Linked DNA regions of Homo sapiens. The protein of the gene in region 1 interacts with the protein of each later gene in a biochemical or structural test. Each region holds a gene or a part of one and is shown on either strand. Other genes may lie near its edges.

The links. The genes of interacting proteins can lie anywhere in the genome.
Region 2: of the proteins of ACSL4 (region 1) and PRKCB, one has a biochemical effect on the other in vitro, tested with the Homo sapiens proteins (one study listed by BioGRID).

Annotation. Positions count from the first base shown.
Region 1 is NC_000023.11:109,673,240-109,682,043, forward strand, and holds part of ACSL4 (long-chain-fatty-acid--CoA ligase 4), read right to left. Parts: intron 8,137-8,804; coding exon 8,027-8,136; intron 7,898-8,026; coding exon 7,759-7,897; intron 5,177-7,758; coding exon 5,026-5,176; intron 4,873-5,025; coding exon 4,749-4,872; intron 1,235-4,748; coding exon 1,163-1,234; intron 1-1,162. UniProt on the Homo sapiens protein: Catalyzes the conversion of long-chain fatty acids to their active form acyl-CoA for both synthesis of cellular lipids, and degradation via beta-oxidation. Preferentially activates arachidonate and eicosapentaenoate as substrates.
Region 2 is NC_000016.10:24,216,983-24,222,013, reverse strand, and holds the end of PRKCB (protein kinase C beta type), read right to left. Parts: 3' UTR 2,054-5,031; coding exon of another isoform or gene 1,901-2,053; 3' UTR 1,403-1,900; downstream 1-1,402. UniProt on the Homo sapiens protein: Calcium-activated, phospholipid- and diacylglycerol (DAG)-dependent serine/threonine-protein kinase involved in various cellular processes such as regulation of the B-cell receptor (BCR) signalosome, oxidative stress-induced apoptosis, androgen receptor-dependent transcription regulation, insulin signaling and endothelial cells proliferation.

The sequences.
Region 1 (8,804 bases):
AAGACTGATAGACTGATACTCCACCAGTATCAGATTGGTAGAGTTCAAACTTTGATTCCATCACCTATGAGCTGTGTGGCTTTGGGGCAACTTTCCTTCTTTATAAGATAGAGTAACAGGGCCCACCTTGCAGTCTTAGAATTAAGTGAGATAATTTATCTAAGGCATTTTGCACAGTGCCTACCTAGCACATAGGAAGCACTGCACTAGCTATTATTAGCAACTTTTTTATGGTTTTAGTCAGATGCCTCTTCTTTCTGTTTGAAAACTTTATGAATTACACAGAACCTCTAAATAAAAAGGCAAAGTCTTCTCTGACCTATTCTACTTCTTTGTTATTTGGTAATTTTGCAATTAGAAGCTAAAAGGACCATAAAGTATCTTCCATCTGTAATTCTCAGAACAACTTGGACTGAACACTTTCTTATCTAATCTCAGAGTTTCCATATACAAAAGTAATTCTGTGAAAGATATTGGGGTAAGATTTCAAGTCTGATCATAATATAAGCAGTAGTGATACATAGTCTTTCTGAAGTTTCTGAAGCATAAAAAAAGCTAGAACATATTTGATTACACAAATCTGAAACATGGTGTTAAATGTTTCAAAATTCATCATTACAAGGCTATAAAATGTAACATCTTTTTTTTTTAAGGCAGTATTTCACATGAAGATTCCGAATATATAGAATTAAACTTTTTTCCTTTGGGAGCTCTCTCCAATTTTCAGTTTACTTAATCACCATAAGAGAGTTGGGAGGGCTTAGATCCTTGACCTTGTATACGATTCTTCAGCTCCCTAGGATGGCCTAAAGTTTCCTCATTTTTTTAATTAAGAGATTAAACAAGATGATCTTTAGAATATATTCTACCTTAAAACGGTCTGACCAATTCTCACAGTAGGTAACCTGAACTAGGTCATTTTCATCACCTAATTTTCATGTATCAGCAAACTCAAACAGGCGTGCATTTCAAAATCTTGCCATTTTGTCTTCCCTAGTATGGTACCTAAGATTTTAATGAACACATTTGCTGTGATTTCAACAAGGTAAAATTATTTTAAAATGTAGACATATCTAAGAGTATTACTTTTTAAAAGGTCCAAGTACGATCAATAAATTATATAAACAATCCTCTTATGTTCATATTCATATTCTGTACTCACCGGAACAGCAGCCATAAGTGTGGGCTTCAGTACAGTACAGTCTCCTTTGCTTCCTTTTTTAATTTTGCTGGACTATATTAAAGAAAAAATAAATATGATCAGGAAAACCAACCTTAAAACATGTTGTAATTCAAGTATTAATAACAAATACAGAAGTTACACTTGGAATTTGAGCTTTTATTGCTCTGTGATTATCTGTTAACAACTATCATAACCTACAAGTCTCAAATGTAAGTATTTTAGTGCTACAGATAACTGCTTCTAGCACATTTCACCTTCCTTAGAGGAGAAACCTTGATCCAGGATAACAAGAGAATGACATTGTGATGAATCAAACATTCTTATTAATAACATACTATCAAATATAGCACAGACTATTACTACATTTTCAAAAAAACTTGATTAAGACAGATATAACACTAAAACAAAATTGAAGGTGATTTTAACTTTCTTTGATTAACAATAGGCAAAGCCACATCCTGAAGACACCACTATGAACATCAATTAACATCATACTGAAACTCTAATTTGGTAATATTCTAGTTGGTAAGATACTGAGAACACTGCCAGGGACAAAGTAGAGATACACATAAATGTGCACAAATGGCCATATAGAGGATGGTTCTCCCGATAGAACTAAGTTGCCTTTCTCCTACTTTTCTTTAATATGGATAAAGGAGATAAAATAACTCATTTTACATATGTGCAAGGATGTGCACATTTGCAAGTGGAAACCTACACAGAAACCATGTACACCACACACAGGAGGGCTGCTCTGCAGAAACAAAATGGGCTCTCATGTCCTTCAGGTCGGAGTTGCCCTCTGCATGCTACTGACCAGCTCTTGCTACAGAGAGCAGTTCCAGGATAGCAGAAGCCACAAGAAGCCCTTCTTTGTTTTTTTTACTCTTAGTAATTTTATCAGTTATTTTGTCTTCTTGTGATCATAGTAATCCTGGTTATGACAATATTGCTATCATCAGTTGGCTCCAAATGTGGTGCTTCTAGTCTCCTGCATCCTTCTGATTTCCTATGTGAAGCAAGTTCCAGTGTTTTAGATTCCTAGTAAGATTGAGAGTCTTTACAGTAAAGTTCATTTAAAAAGTAGGTGTGAATTTTACTGAACAGGCTTCTAATGTACTAGCTTAGCCTAAGAGACAGCAAGAATTAAGTCAGACCAGCAACAGACTCCAACTGTCCCTCCTTTCCCACACTGAGGCTATTGTTCTCAGAAAGGCAGTGAAAAATCAAAGAACGGCTAGTCCTGGCTTCCAAATTCACAAAGGGAAAAAAAAATTATACTCAAAGTTTACTGAAATGTTTTCTACATTTTGATAATGTCTCTGAGCATAAGAAAAACCCATGACAACAAAACATAATGATCAGAGATTTTACTAAATTTGTTTTAGAGTTTAAGCCTTAGTCTTATTGATAGGTCTACTTTGATTTCACCAGGTCAAGTTCTGCTATCAATCGGATAGTGTATTTATTCATACCATTACTATTCTAGCAGATTTTAAGTGTGAATTTATAGCTGAGTGGTATAGTCAAACACAGCAGCACCCTGTCATACAAAGATTGTGTTTCTTAAAGTACAAAGCTAGGAGTTGTTTGGAACAGAATGCGTTCTCACAGAAAAAGCCACTTTAAAAGAAGGCTGGATTCTTCCTTCAAAGAGAATCCAATGTGGTAATGACCAGGAGGGGACCCAAGGGACATTCACGGGTGCTGAAAATGTTCTTTGTTTTCCTAATCTAGACGGTGATGATCACAGAGGTCTATATGTGTATATGCTTATTAAATCTCATCAAGCAGTACACTTAATATTTGTGCACTTTAAGTCATATATCAAAAAAAAAAAAAACACAAAGGTGATTGGAATCTCAAGTCCAAAAAAAACTATTTAACTTTTTTTGTTTTAATAGTATACAACCTATCTAGCCTCTCCCTAAAATGGTATTTCTACAAATAAAGTATTACAATTTCTAACTGTGAACACTGAGGACGTATCTTACCAACTACATGCTCCATGGAGACTCTCAAACAAAAGGCAGCATTGCCTGGTGGGGGGCGGTCTGAAAAACAACAGCTGGGCCCCCAGTGTTGGAGGAGCAGAGCCACGTATAGACAAGTCATTCCTACCTATACTTGCTTTGTCTTTCAGCATCCAGAACCCCACAGCTTCTTTAGTGGCTCTTTTTTTTTTTCCCCTAAGCCTGGTTGAAGCTTTTCTACAGCAACTATTCCAAAGAAGACATAAAACAGAACTGTGGACAATAGTATTAGGTGTGTAATTTCAAATGGGTATAACATATATGAGTTAGCCCCACCCATTGTTGGGATTTCTGCTATGAACTACAGAGAGAAGGAAGAATCCTAACTTAGTATGGTGAGCTGAGACTACCTTTGGAGATGCCTCAGCCCCTACCAATAGAACTTTCTGTGATGATAAAAATATTCTTTATCTTTGCTGCCTAATATGGTAGCCGTTGGTCACACGTAGCTATTGAGAGCTTGAAATGTGGCTAAAGCAAATAAAAAAATTTTTTTCAATTTTACTTAATTTTTTTTTTTTTGAGACGGAGTCTCGCTCTGTCGCCCAGGCTGGAGTGCAGTGGCGCGATCTTGGCTCACTGCAAGCTCCACCTCCCAGGTTCACGCCATTCTCCTGCCTCAGCCTCCCGAGTAGCTGGGACTACAGGCGCCCACCACCTCGCCCAGCTAATTCTTTTGTATTTTTTTAGTAGAGACGGGGTTTCACCATGTTAGCCAGGATGGTCTCAATCTCCTGACCTTGTGATCCACCCGCCTCGGCCTCCCAAAGTGCTGGGATTACAGGCATGAGCCACCGCGCCCGGCCCTTAATTTTTATTTAAATATCTGCCTAGTGGCTACTGTATCAGACGGTACTGCTCTAGAAAAATCTCGGGAAAACTGGGCCAAGACCCTAACATATCTCCTCCCAGAAACCCACCAATGCTCATGGGTAGTGTGTCAAAAAGGCTCATTGCATTTATATTCTCTATCGTAGTTCTCAAGAGTAAAAATCTAGTAGAAAAAGATAAAAGTAATTATTCATTTTTAAATAATTTTAAGGCTGGGCACAGTGGCTCACATCTGTAATCCCAGCACTTTGGGAGGCCGAGGCGGACAGATCACTGGAGGTCAGGAGTTCGAGACTAGCCTGGCCAACATGGCGAAACCCCATCTCTACTAAAAATACAAAAAAAATAGCAGGGCATGGTGGCGGGCGCCTGCAATCCCAGCTACTCTAGAGGCTGAGGCAGGAGAATCGCTTGAACCCGAGAGGCAAAGGTTGCAGTGAGCCAAGATCATACCATTGCACTCCAGTCTGGGTGACAGAGCAAAAGAAAAGAAAAAAAAAATAATTTTAAAATATATAGCTAAAGCAATGCTAACAAATCTACAGGGTAATCTCCTATAGCTACATATTGTTCATGGAAGCTATTTTGAGGTCAAGGAGAAAGCTTTAGCTGAATTAAAATATCTCGAGTCCTAGTAATATGTTCTCAGCCAAACCATGCAGCATCATACGATCATGCCAATATACTGAAAAGTTTGTCACCTGGTCAGAGAGTGTAAGCGGAGAAGAATATCCAATCCTGCAGCCATAGGTAAAGCAAGATATCTCTGCTGTCAGTTCTAGCACATGAGCCAAAGGCAAGTAGCCAATATATGTGTCCTTCGGTCTAAAACAAAATAAGAGAAATATTTTAACCATTCTTGAAAAGGCATTTGAAGTTAGAAATACCAAGAGCTTTATCATTTTAATATAGATTGAGTTTAGAGAATGCTGAACATGAACTCTGATTTCTAAGAAGAAAGTTAAAGAATTATCTTACCCCAGTCCAGGTATTCTTTCACACTGGCCTGTCATTCCAGCTATCAAATTGCTATGATGCATCATCACTCCCTTAGGTCGGCCAGTAGAACCACTAGTATACATAACAATGGCCATGTCTGAAGGCGTTGGTCTACTTGGAGGAATGCCCACTAAATGAATGAATGAAAAATATCACATTTACTTCAGTTCAAAAGTTAAATTACTAAAGAATAATAGGATATTTAGATTTTGCATAACGATAAGCTATCAATAGACAGTATTTGCTTTAAATCATCAAAACGAGCTGGGTGAGGTGGCTCATGCCTGTAATCCTAGTACTTTGAGAGGCCAAGGTGGGAGGATCACTTGAGCCCTGGATTTCGAGACCAGCCTGGCCAACATGGCAAGACTCTGTCGCTACAAAAACTAAAAAAGTTAGCCGGATGCAGTGGCATGCACCTGCAGTCCTTGCTACTCAAGAAGATAAGGCAGGAGGACTGGGTGAGCCTAGCAGGTTGAGGCTATGGTGAGCTATGGTCATACCATTGTGCTCCAGCCTGGGCTAGAAAACAAAAATGTTTATCAAATTCTGATTACAGTGAGCATTTTGGACTCAATTTGGCCCATTTTCTGGATGTTTAACCTAATCTCTGTCTGTGCATTGCCTCTCCACAGTGTTGTATACAGAGCAATGTTGTGGAAAGATTTCTGGGACTTTGGAGTATCAGGAGGACAGAGTATGTGTATAAACTTCTTAGGCCTCAGTTTCTCATCTCTAAAATAAGACAGCTGGACAGATTGTGGTTACTAACCACTAGTGGGTATCAGAATCACGTGCAGAACTTAAATAAAATATTATTTCTGAACCCCCTTTCTGAAAATTCAGATTCAATATGTCTGGGATAGAACAAAGCTCCACAAGTGATTCTCATATATGCCCCTGATTGAAAACCACTGGATCTGATCTTTAAGGTGACTTCAATGCTAACATTTGAAGGTGATAAGTTTTAAACAGAACCCTGGAGCTTCCACTTTCAAGACAGTGTATAGTGCTAGCCTAGTAACCACTTTTCCTTCCGAGAATATACCAAAATGGCTAAGAAGCCACATATATATCATCAGAATGAAATACAAGTTTAACAGGATTATCACATTTAAAAATCTTTACACAAATTATTTACATTTTTATATACCAGTTAAAATAACATTTTTTTAAAACAGTGAGCTATACCACTGAAACAAAGATAGTTACACTTAAACTGGCTAATTTTAATGCTTTTTAAAGATATAGTCATAGTTTATAAACCAAGCAAATAAGGACTGCATATTTCCTCTGATGATTAACCAAAGCAACAGCAGTAGCTAAATTCTTCTTAATCTAAGCACATGTGATACTTTGCTTCTGCCCACTTTTAAGTAAATATGCAAAAAAGTGGCATCACAATAACTGTCTGTACCACAAAAACATATGTATCCTATCTATTGCAGACATGAGTAGAACTAAGTGGGATATGTGGCCTATTACATTATTGCTCACACAAAATTATGAAGACTGCTGACCCCTTAGCTTGCTGCCAACACCCTTTGTGGTCAATCAGCAGAACTGTAACTGATCCCTACCAATCAGGACTTCTCAGTCAAGTTTATCCCAATCTTACAGGGTCAACCTAGTGTAGAAAAACAATTCTCTATGGGTCTCATGTTCTGCACATCTTGCAAGCAGAGACATTGACTTTGTTCCAGACTATCTTTACAAGGATATTTGCACAGAGATAGTGTCTCTCCCCAGAGCAAACAGCAGGCATGCTTACTGTCCAGTACAATAAGATAATAAGATATTCAGGCTCTTTAAGCTCAGAGTTCCTCTCTTATGACACAAATGCTGATATGATACTCTGGCTACTGCTATTGTTGTGAGTAAAAAACTGTCCCTCATCTCAGACCCAAAAGTCTATGGCACCAGGAAGTTTTGCAGGCTCATCTGTTTGCCGGCAAGCAGGGTAAAATCTGACTCTCTGCCATTCTGGACACATGGCAGATGTGTATAATAACACCTGTTATTATAAACGCATGCTCATTCTCTAATGGTAAAATGTTCAGAAGCTGAGTAGAGGTTCGACCAACATTTTCTCCTGCAAAAATGAATCCTTTTCTCATTATAGTATGGTATTTTGACCATCGCATTAAACATAATAAGAAAACTCTTCAAATGGAGTATTAATTTCCTCAACTCTCTGCCCTGATGGCCAACTGACATTTTGCTACAAGGTACACTTACTTGTTTCAAATGAAATACCAACTACCACCTCAGTGGTAAAATAAATCCAAGCATTAATCTTGGTAAACAGCTTTGCATCCTCTGAAACATCCTTAAGATAACTAGCATTAAGCATTTATTTCAGAAAGTTTACTGAATGGAAGGCCTGAAATATTTTTCTTTTATGAGGCCCAAATTGGAAGGTTATAGTGGGTTATTTAAAAAATGAAGAAACATTTGGCAGCAACTGCCATGAAGTCTGAACCACAGATTACATCTCAACCACTTAGTGAAATTTACTAACTTATTTTTTTTGAGGAGAAATGGAGGGAAAATCTTAATCATATATGGTCTTGATGGTTTTTAAAGATTTTTGAACTTTTTTTTTTCAGTCAAAGAACTTTTGTGGATTTACTCATGTCATTTGTTTCCCTAACCTACCAAAATAACAAACTTGGAATAGGTAAATAAAATTGTTTTTACTGCTTTACTTACAGTTTTCTGGGTTAGATCCCAACTCTTCTACTGATTGCATGCTGTGAATCTCAAATCCTTCAGGGTACTCTGCTTTATTGATAGCCTTATTGTCCACATAAATGATATGTTTAACACAACTGATATCTAACAATGCAGTCTGTTGAGCAGAAAGAAAAAAAAACAGCTATTAAACTTAAGCCTGCAACAAAAATTCACTTACTGAATGAATATTTTTCTGTCCTGCCAGACAACGCAACCATGAATTAAAAGAAAATTTCATATTTACCTTAAGTTTACTTTCCAGAAGTTCAACACTGGTAATCAGATAGGAAGCCTCAGATTCATTTAGCCCATGAACTACTGCTTCTTTGCCAAGTGTGGCATATAAAGTCACAACTACATAATAAAAATAAACACAAATATTAAGTAATAAACATCTATTAGAAATGGATATTATTGAAGTCAGTCTTTAATAATAGTTACACTTAGAGACACAAAGACATTGTATATTTTAATTTGATTTCATAGTCTCTGTTACCATCCTTCAACCTTGCTTCAAACTCCCTGGGAGCCCAAAGTTTTCCTTACAAATTCCCAGAACTCTCACTTCCTAAACCTGAAGAAACCCAGAAACACTCGCACTGCCACAGCTGATCAAAAATCTGTCAATTTAGATGCTCAAGGCCAATAGGTACTGGCTGAACTCTTAATTCAGGTCAGACTGGCCCAGCTAGGGCTTCTTCTTGATACACACTTTCATTGGCCATAGCCTCCAAAGAATGGATAAGTCCTTGAAAATCTTGAGGATCTTAAGTCATAAGATCAGCCACAGATAATGTTCTTACTCCTTCTAAGAAGCTGTTTTAGTGAGTCCAATGTCCAATGTGATTGGTGACCTCCACACCTTAATTAGAGAGATCAAGGAGATCTACTCCTTAGGAGCCACCAGAGATAACATAAACCAAGATCAGTTAGAATCAAAGGACATCTGCTAAACTTAGAAAGAACTGAAAATTCAGCTCTAGATTGGTAACCAGAAACAATGTGGTTAAAAATAGCCACTT
Region 2 (5,031 bases), on another chromosome or scaffold:
TGGGGAGTCCTGAACTATCTTATTGGTCTCTATAACACCAGTATCCAGAACTGTGCTTGGCTCAGAGTCGGGGCTCAATATTTATTAAATGAAAGATGGGTTTATATCTGGCAGAGGGGGAAAGTTTGAGAAGCTGGCATGGAATGAGGAGGAATAAGAGGCAGCAATGGTAACCTCTTCTATATAATACTGTCTTAAATGGGATGCATGTTCAAACATCTGTAGAATCCCAGGTATTTTTGTTTTCTAAATGTGATGCCTAGAACACTGTTTCTTCCTGAAGTTTAAATGGGCTTCAGCCAACTTTAACTGGCAGACTTTCTAAAATTCTGCAAAGATTAGTGCACTAGGTAAGATCAATGGATTCACTGTATCTTTCCAATGCTCCATTTACTGAGGCTCTTTCAAGAAGGGAAGAGATGAATACACTCTGTAGAGAGTCATAATGTACATAGTGTGAACACATTTGCTCTTTTCTGCTACCCACTAGCCTTAGCAGCTACAAAGGCATGTGCTACAGATTGGATTACTATATCTTTTGAAAAGAAAATAGAAGCATGACTTCATTCAGAGAAGAAGGTATTAGATTGACACCCAGTGACTCAGTACTGTGCCACTCTGCTCTGAGAGAGTGCGGGTCCTTATCATGCCAGCAGGGTTTAGAAGCAGTCTCCCTTATTTCTCCCTCTTCTCTTGGGCCTCCCTGGACAAGCGGTTGAAAAAAAAAATGGCTTATACTCCCCCCCCTCTTTTTTTGGCAGGTGCTTAGCTAAATTAGGAGAATATAAGTCAAAGGTAAGTCGTTTTACAAATAGCAACATCCTCATGGACAACAAACAAAGGATTCTCTCTGCACTGACACCAGCCTCTTTCCTGACTTTTGTCATGGCTGGAATAAAATCTTACATATCTTGTGCTTGATACATAGCTTAATAAACACGAATCACATTGAGTGGGTGGCTGCACACATACCCTGATTAGGGGCACAAGAAAATATTAAGGTCCTCAAACCTGTGACTCACGAATGACAGAGGTTTCAACCTCAAGTGGCTATAGCAGCCAGGGAAGTGGATGGAGGGTATAAGACAATAGGGGGTGGTGGAGACTGTGGCAAAATGAGAACATACACTGCTTTTAAAGGAGAAGCATTTCTCAGTTCTGTAGAATTATTTCCATGTGGAAATACAGGCTCAGAGCTGCTAGTCTTTTGTTTCTTTTTTCAAGGGAATCTAAAAGTCCAGGAATTTATATAAAGTATCTTATTTTGTCATGTTCACAATGGTTTTGATTAAGTAAAATTCCATGTGAGTAAAATTAAGCTTATCTAATGGCTACAAACTGGATCTTCAGTCTGTAACCTCTGTAACATAGTCTATTTAAGAAAAGACATATAAACAAGAGCTTGCATATATTAATTCAGTTTAATCATATCAATTCTTAAACAAAAAACTTCCTCCAAGAGACAATAGTTCACAGTAACTGCAAAGCTTACTCACAATTTTTAAAAATATCGCTCATGCTTAGCATTCAAAGAAGATATTATAGAATAACTGTAAAAACTTTTACCAGGAACATCAGCTTCTGACTTGAAAAATTACAAATACTGAAGCATTTTGGTATCAGACACAGTAGTTTTGACATTGTCTGTTCATTTGATGAGTTTCTGGAAGTTTGGAAAATTGTACCTCTATAATTGGATAATGCGCTTATTCTAAACTAAACATTTTCAAATGTAGAAAACAAACTAGCAAGCTACACATACAAAGAAAAGCCCTCTAAGACAAGCTTTCCACATGTTGAATGCCAGCATGTGCACCGTGAATCCTGGAAGACTAGAATTGATACATACGCTTGGCTTGAAGTCTTACACCCCAGGCTCAACGATGGAGTTTGCATTCACCTACACATTAATGACAAACTCTGGGTTAGTATAAGAGAAGCCAGCAAATTCATTTTGGTCCAAGTTCATGATGAAGAGTTTATCAGTGGGGGTCAGTTCCACAGGCTGTCTGGTGAACTCTTTGTCGAAGTTGGAGGTGTCTCTCTTGTCTCTCTGCCAAATGGAAAGTAAACACATTAACACAGCGTAAGAAGAAAGACACAGGACCAAGATACGCCAGTCATTGGGTGGCTGATACCATCTCATGAGCAGAGTCAGAAAGAGCCCTGTGCTGAAAATTTTTAGCAGCTGCACTCCACGCACTGGCTTTCATTTCACATTGTATGTTGGCTTGGGGATAGAAATGTGGTGGAAATTTTCTAAGAAAAGAAGTAAGTCATTGAATGTCAGTTAAGAATTGCCATAAAGTGGTGTGTGTGTGTGTGTGTGTGTGTGTGTGTGTGTGTGTGTGTGTGTGTTGCTGTATTTTCTTTGGCTTTAGGATGAATTGAATTGGAAGCTACTTATTACCATGCTTAATGTTATAGAAATAATCATTAGGTAGAGCGTCCTGGAGAAAACCATTCAGTAGCAGCCCAGGTGGCTAGAAGACCTCTTTCTCTGAAAAGGTGAACTGCTGCCCATCTACTCTGCCCCCAAGAAGGCAGAATGGCCATGTGGAGAAATCAGATCACTGCTTAATGAAAGGAATTGACCACCGTCAGCTCGAAAATCCACCCACAGTCTAGAATTGGGTGTTTATCAGGCAGAAGTTCTCTCCAAAGACATTTTTAGCATGTGTCAACAAACTATAAGAGAGAAAACCCAAAGCTTAAAGGAGGGTGTGTAAGGGGAGCCTTAAAACAAAACAAAACAAAACAAAACAAAAGAAACTCAAAGCAACTCGATTCTCCTAGTAAGTCTGGCATTTCTTTTTTTGTTCAGTAGGGAGGTGGAGAAGAAATTAACCCCCATTTACTAGCAATTGCTTGGGGCAAGTCTCACCAGGGAACATCAGAATGTGGGCTAATAAAGGAATCTGTATGATGCTCCGACCTCTTCAGGGTCCTTGCAAGCCTCTTGTCTTTCCTCATCATCACCACACCCACCTGGGGCAGGTGGAGCTGGAGTCCTCACCTCCTATATATGACATATGAGAGAACCGAGGCACAAGCAGGCAGGGTGGCTTGCCCAAGATTTCAGTGGGTTCCTGATTTTTACCTGACCACATCGCTGCTATGTAGGCCTCATCACAGTCTCTCGGACTGGAGGGACAACCCCATGGCTGTTTTATTACAAGACAACCAGGGAAGAAGGCCTTGTATTCCCTAGTGCCCTGCACATTCCCGGGCTGCAGCCAAAGTTGCCTCAGATTATAAAGGCCAGGGGGTCGGTAAGGATTCACTGACTCATTAGCGTTTGAGCCATCACCACCCAGGCTTTAGGTTTAGCCCCCTAATGGGCACTAGCTGTTAAGGATCTCTCATTGCTGGGTTCACTCTCCTTTGCAAAAGACCTTTTACAAGACTTGCTTCTTTGTGGCTGCTCCCCTGAGATAGGTAAAATGTCTCTATGGAGTTCCCTCCTTACTCTTGCCAAGTCTATGTGAGGGTGTGGGAGTGAGGTGGGCACACTGAACTCAGGAGCACACGTGGGTATGTGTGGCTAGAGTGGGGCAGGCTAAGATGCTGATGGAGCTGTTTCCTGGGTAGGGTCCATCTCTACCATGTCCCACCTGCCCTTTTTGTCTTGTCCTGCTTGCTGTTAGCCTGTGGGGTGCTATAGGAGTTTCCATCCCCCAGGCGCTCGGCATGTTACTTCCGGTGTTCACAACAAAGCTCGAATGCCTCCTCTTTAATATTGTCTGTGCATCTCTCTCCCAATCCCCACAAGTCACACTTTAGCATCCTTTAATTATCTTGATTGCACTTATTGCTTTCAGAAATTGTCTTGTTTATTTATTATTTCTCTCCAAGAAACAATATTCTTGGAGAATTTCTTGGAGAGAAACAATAAACAGGGTCCTCATCTGCTTCTTCACTAGTGTATTTCCAGTGCTAAGAATAGTGCCTGGCACACAGTAGGTTGTTTGTAATTATTTGTGGAATGAAGGAAGACTTGGGATATGCCTCTATCCTTTTTGCAACTTATAATTGTCCCCGAGCCAGAAACTTTACTCTGAGGCAAAACAATGGAATTGATTCCCATTGATCCTAAAGGTCTCCCAAATGGGCCACTGTCCCTTTTGAACCCCTGTATGAACTGAACTGTGTTAGGGCCCCTAAAGGTCTGAGAACTCCAGGACAGTGTGTGAGCTAAAAGGCAGGTATATTTGGAGCTAGAAGACACAAAGCTGCCTTTTTTTTAGGTCTCCCCTGGTCTCATCAACCCTATTTCGCTTTCCCTGCCTGTGGGCCTCTTATCAAAGATTCCCTTCTGACCAGCCCCACCTTGGAAAGCCCTGCCCCGTTTGTTGTGCTGGTGATGGCTAATGCTTCAGATAACCACATGGTCCAGACAGGACTTGCTTTTATGGACTTTGTCCTGTGGGCAGATCCCCAGAGAAAATACTCCTGGATTTTACCGTAGAAGTTGGGAGAGAATAAGCTTCTCTGTTGAGATCATTTCTTTGAGGTTGATAGCATCTGAAGCCATGTGAAAACAGTAGCACTCATCCAAGGAGGGTTATTAATTCTACTGACCTCCCATTAATCCCCCAAGAAGGTCCTTGTTGCTATGGCCCTGTCCTCTCTTCAAAAAGCTCTGTTTCTCAGTTTCTTCTGCACTGGAAATGTGGATAGAAAAGGAAGTGGTAGAAATTCTGACTTTCCATGGAAAGTTTCTCTAAAACAGACTTTGGCTTGAGTATCTATTTCTGCAAACTATTAAACTTTTGAAAAATAATGGCAAGAATTTGGAAAATGTTGAGTGCAGTATTTATAACACTATATTCCTTCCTTCCTTCCTTCTTTTCCTTCCTTCTTTCCTTCCTTCCTTTCTCTTTCTTTCTTTCCTTCTTTCTTTTTCTTCTTTCTTTCCTTTCTTTCTCTTTCCATTCATCCTACATTGTTTTCTAAAGTTGTCTCAGATCATTTGTCAATGGCCTAGTGTTTCTCCATGGTTTTTATCTTCCTGAGAGCATGTCCAAGCAA